2 separate regions of the Homo sapiens genome follow, and region 2 is linked to region 1. A link means that fine-mapping ties the variant in region 1 to the expression of a gene that starts in the linked region. Tissue or cell type: adrenal gland. Region 1 holds a variant in brackets; the other region holds the start of a gene. All regions are shown on one strand. Distances are between the middles of the regions.

The links. PIP is the estimated chance that this variant, and not a neighbour inherited with it, causes the effect.
Region 2: it holds the start of SLC26A1, and the variant in region 1 is fine-mapped to the expression of SLC26A1 in adrenal gland (GTEx, PIP above 0.99).

The regions. Positions count from the first base shown.
Region 1 is chr4:963,153-965,902 of GRCh38, reverse strand. It overlaps DGKQ (diacylglycerol kinase theta), which reads left to right. Exons shown (of 23, transcript NM_001347.4): 14 at 374-412; 15 at 612-727; 16 at 2,613-2,750. Among named protein-coding and RNA genes, the nearest start is that of DGKQ, 9.0 kb to the left of the region's middle. RefSeq lists a silencer at 2,291-2,450. The variant C/G (reference allele first, on the strand shown) is at 1,601.
Region 2 is chr4:992,146-994,769 of GRCh38, reverse strand. It overlaps SLC26A1 (solute carrier family 26 member 1), which reads left to right and starts at 1,366. Exons shown (of 3, transcript NM_022042.4): 1 at 1,366-1,469. The region is part of intron 2 of IDUA (alpha-L-iduronidase); the gene reads right to left. RefSeq lists enhancers at 406-1,217, 1,218-2,029.

The DNA.
Region 1 (2,750 bases):
GCTGCTGGCACGGGGCAGGGTCGAGCGGCAGGCAGTGGGGCTGCAGTGCTGAGCCGGCTCCTGCCTCTCCTTGAGCCACCAAGGCCTGAGCTCCGGGTCCAGCCCACGTCTCTTCCTCCAAGAGGCTCTGGAGCCTCTCGCCCTCTGTGGCCGTTCCCTGCGGTGCTCAGCCTCTGCCTCTCCCTCTCCCTCTGGGGGGTCCTGTACCTCCAGGGAGCTGGGAGTCCTGCTCCTGGAGTGGGGCAGGGGTACTTCCTGGGGAGGCTGCCTTTGGGGTGAGATGTCACCCCTGGACAGGCGGAGGGGCTGTCCCTGGCCCCAGTGCTGTGTGTCCTTCGCCTCCCACCGCCCTGACCACAGCCTGCCTTTGCAGCCACCGTGGTGTCCGTGAGTCACATCTACTCCTCCCAAGGTGAGCTGCCCTGAGGGACGTGGTCACATGAGGCCCAGGGGTGTTCCTGGGGTGAAGTGGGACAGCCCTGGCCCTCACGTAGCACCTGACCTTTCCCTTGGGCAGCCCTGGGCTGGGGAAACGTCCTGGTTTGGTTCCTGCCCTGGCACCGTGGGGGCCATGGGACAGGCTCCCCCTGAGTCCTGGGCTCCTGCCGCAGGCGCGGTAGTGTTGGACGTTGCCTGCTTTGCGGAGGCCGAGCGGCTGTACATGCTGCTGAAGGACATGGCTGTGCGGGGCCGGCTGCTCACTGCCCTGGTGCTCCCCGACCTGCTGGTGAGTGTGCGGTCAAGCCGGCTCTTCACACACCCCAGGGGGTGGCCAGAGGGAGGTCGGGGTCTGCAGGTGCACAGGCCCCACAGCCAGACTCGCTGTTTTCATCTGGCATCACTTCCTTGAATTCACTGGGGGCTTGTAGGTGCCACCTTGTTTGTGCCTCACAACAGCAGGAAGGACTCTGTTGCCCGTTTTACAGCAAGGGGCCTGAGGTCAGAGGGTCAGCGCTCATCCGAGGCTGCCCAGTAGGTGATACCAGCTCCGTGGGGCACCGTGGGGTCAGGCCCAGCTTCCACGCTGCACCTGAGGCCTCCACCCAGTAGGGAGGCCCACAGGACGCAGCTCCTGGATGTGCCGGGCCCCGCTGCGGCTGCCTCGCCAAGGGCCAGAGCGTGTTTGTGACCAGCTGTCAGGATCCCAGGCATGGCCCTCCCGGTACAGCCTCAGCCTCACTCCCCCTGCCCGGGAGGCCTTAGGGCCTCTGCTCTCTGCCTGGAGCTCCCCAGGCCAGTCAGTGCAGCTCCCAAACTTTGAACGCTGCCCTTCAGACCCACAGTGCCCAGAAGAGGGGGCACCTGGCAACAGGGCAGGGCTGGGGGAAAGGGGGATCTGGAACATGGAGACAGGGCAGGGCCGGGGGGAACGGGGGTCTGGTCCGTGGAGACAGGGCAGGGCCGGGGGGAACGGGGTTCTGGCCCATGGAGGGGCTGGAGCCTGGGACTCCACGCTGCACACCGTGCCTTCACATTGGCCTCTCGTCCTCAGCCCATCTAGCCCCCAAAGGGTCCCATGAGGACCCCCCAGGTGTCCATGGCTGTTCTACCCCTGAACCTTGACCCTTGATCGTGACCCCAGTCCAGGCGAAGCAGAACT[C/G]GAGCAGAATGAGTTGTCTGTGGCTGGGACGGGAGATGCCTGTGGCTCCCTGCTATGCCTCCCTCCTGTGCCCCTACACCCGGCCTTGCCTGGCTCAGGACAGGGTGGCCATCCCCACTGTCCCGAGGATGCAGCCCCCACCCCAGCTCCACTCGCTCTGTGGGCAGAGCCAGGTTTGGGGCCGACACGCGCTTTCTCTCTCCCGTCAGCTGCCTGCCCTGGGGTGAGTGGTAAGTGGTGACCGCAGGCGGCTCTGCCTGCCAAGTGGGTCACGAAGCCCCGAGTGTGTCCTTGCCCCCAGCCACGGCCGGCCCCTGTGCCGCTGCCCACCCTGTGTCTGCACCCAGCCTGTGTGTCTCCTGTTGCCCAGCCTTCCCCGCTGTGGGGGCCCCAGCCTCCTGTCGTAGGGTCCCTAGCCTCCTGTCGTAGGGATCCCAGCCCTGAGCCCGCTGTGTCTAGATCCCTGGGTACTGTTTCTTGGGGTTGTGTGTGGGGAGATGGACTCTGTCCTGTGGTCGAGGGACGCCGCGTGCCACCCTGTGAGTTAAGAGCTTTTCTCGGCTGCTGTGTAGGTGGGCGGTGGCCTGGGAGCCGCCATCCTCCAAAGGTGTGCACCAGAGGCCCCCCAGGGGACAGGCCTTGGTCTCGCTGGCACAGAGTGCCACGCAGAGTCCCACGTGGATTTCCAGCCTGGACTCGCGCTGCATGGCCCAGGCGGGTGTGGTCTGTTCACACGCAGCTCAGTGGGCAGGTCTGAGGCCTTTGTGCTGGGAGTGCCAGGCAGCCAGCCGGCTGTCCTCAGTGCCGCCCTGCTGGCCAGCAGCGAGATGGGGTGACCACGCAGCTCATGTGTGAGGCCTCAGATGTGAGGGTGCTGGCCACGCCTTCCTGGGGAGGGGGCTGGTCCAAGCCAGGTGGGCTCAGGGTTGGGGGCTGGGCACTGCCTGGCAACCCCAGCAGTGGGGACACCCCACCTTGGGTCCCCATCCTAACCCAGCCCCCTGTCTGTCAGCACGCGAAGCTGCCCCCAGACAGCTGTCCCCTCCTTGTGTTCGTGAACCCCAAGAGTGGAGGCCTCAAGGGCCGAGACCTGCTCTGCAGCTTCCGGAAGCTACTGAACCCTCATCAGGTCTTCGACCTGACCAACGGA
Region 2 (2,624 bases), 29 kb before region 1:
TTTTAATTTTTTAAAGGTTGGGGGGCAGGGGGCGGCCGGGTGCAGTGGCTCAAGCCTGTAATCCCAGCACTTTGGGAGGCCGAGGTGGGTGGATCACGAGGTCAGGAGATCAAGACCATCCTGGCTAACATGGTGAAACCCCGTCTCTACTAAAAATACAAAAAATTAGCCGGGCGTGGTGGCGGGTGCCTGTAGTCCCAGCTACTCGGGAGGCTGAGGCAGGAGAATCACTTGAACCCGGGAGACAGAGCTTGCAGTGAGCCGAGATCATGCCACTGTACTCCAGCCTGGGCAACAGAGCGAAACTCCGTCTCAAAAAAAAAAAAATTAGCCGGGCGCGGTGGCGGGCGCCTGTAGTCCCAGCTACTCAGGAGGCTGAGGCAGGAGAATGGCGTGAACCCAGGAGGCAGAGCTTCCAGTGAGCCGAGATCACACCACTGCATTCCGGCCTGGGTGACAGAGCAAGACTCCGCCTCAAAAAAAAAAAAAGAAAAGGTGGGGGGCGTCTCACTATGTTGACCAGGCTGGTCTTGAACTGCTGGCCTTAAGCGATCCTCCTGTCTAGGCCTCCCAAAGTGTTGGAATTACAGGAGTGAACCATCGTGCCTGGCTAATAATTCCTTTTAAAAAGCAGCTTACCCTTATTTTCACGTGTGGGCCTAATTTAGTTCACTTAAAAAAATCATTTATCTTCACCCCAGCCCTATGAGGCAGGCACTGCCGGTCCTGGTCTGTGGTAGAGGGGAGGGCAGAGGAGCCGTGAGGGTGACCAGGCGCTGTGGGTCGGTGCTGGGTCCAGTCAGACCAGGACTCCTGGCCAGTCACGGCACCTTGACCCCGGCAGTCCTCGCCCTGGGCGGTGAGCACCACACACAGGGCTTACGCGAGCACACACGCATATGCACGCACCGGCAGCCTTGGGCTGAGCCGGCTGTCAGCCTCTGCCCTGCTCCAGCTTGGACCAGGCTGGCTCCTTGCAGGACCAGGAGGGTGTCCGGCGACTGGACACGGAGACCAAGCCTCCCTCAGCCCCGCCTGGGTTTGAAGGCTGCTGCACTCGACCCCAGACCCCAGAGCTGAAGGTTTACCTGTGCTCAGCCCCTGAGCCCCCGCCTCCCGCTGGTCCCTAAGCCCCCCCGGCAGGGCCGCAGAGCCACAGCTGCAGCGGCTCCTGGGAGGCTGGGAGCTCCTCAGAGGCCCACACAGCTCTAACTCCTACAAGCCCCTGATTACAGTTCAACTCCCGGATCAGCCGATCAGGTAACATGGCTGGAGAAACCCATGACTCAGCAATCTGTAGGTAAATAATTGAACTACAGAGTCCAGGGCACAGACCACTGCCTGCAGGTTGGCGCCACCACCCCCACTCTCCCCGCTGCTCGCGGGAGCCAGAGGGCCCTGCGGTCCTCGGTGGTCTTGCCAGCCCCTCGTCATCCCAGGGCCCTCCGCGCCTGTGAGGACTCCCTCAGGTAAGAACCATCCTGGGCCCAGATCTCAGCTGCAGCAGAGGGGGGCGTGGGAGCCGAGGCCAGAAATGCCCTGGACTCGTGGTTTCTTAGGGGCACCCTCAGGCTCAAGGCAGGTGGCCCTACTGTCCCCATTCCACACACCTGGACCCCAGGGGCTTGGGGTGGGCTTCAGGGCATCCAGGGACCCAGTGTGGTGGGGTCTTCCAGGGAAGGGGACACAACTCTTGCAATGTTGCCTGAGGGCCAGGACCCCCGCTCTGTGCCCCAGGGGTGCTGTGCCCAGCCTGCATGTGTCAACCTACCAGGCTGGGCTCACTGCCCCAACACACCCGCCAGGAGACTGGAGCTCGCACACCCTGGGCCAGCGTGCAAACAGCAGGCTCAGCCCAGGCTCCAGGGTGTCCTGGGCACCTGGTGTCCTGGGAGCAAAGTCTTTGCCTAACGTCGCTGAGAAGAATGTTTAAAGTGAAAGTACATTGGAGTCTGCAAACAGGACAGACCCGAGGCCTCACGTGGGACCAGTCAGGCCTCTAAGCACCGCCTCCCTAACGCCACGGTGTTTTCCGAGATCAAGGGAAAGGTCAGGTGCCCTTCCGGCTCTGCCGGCCCAGGGTGACTGTGTGCAGCGGGCTGGGCCCTCTCGGTGCTGCCTCGGGACAGTGTGTCATGGCCGTTCCACAGTGAGCTGGTGCAGCCTGGGAAAAAGGGCGCCTCACGTCCCAGAACTGTCTGGGCAGGGGAGACAGACGCCAGTCACCCTCCTCCCCTCCCAGCTGGCCCTGATGGGGCCCCCGTCCAGGCATATTCTCAGAATTCTGTCCCAAGTCCAGGCGGATGGGCTAGGCTAGTGTCTGAGTGCTGCTCCCCCAGCAGACTTGGGGTCCCAGTACCCACAAAGCTTGGCAGGGACATAGGAGGCCTCTTCCTGAGACTTCCGCCAGCCCCAGGACCCACAGGGCAGGTGACAGAGGGGTGGGTGGAGGTGTCTCCAGGAGAGCAGGCGATGGTTTGGATGGGGGAGGGAGGGCTCTGGTGTGGGCATGGGGTGGACAGCAGGACCGTTTGCCAACCTGGGGAGCCAGGGAGGTGGACACGGAGCAGCTGGACTCAGGCTTGCCTGCACCTGTGTCCAGTGACTGTGACATTCTGACGGTA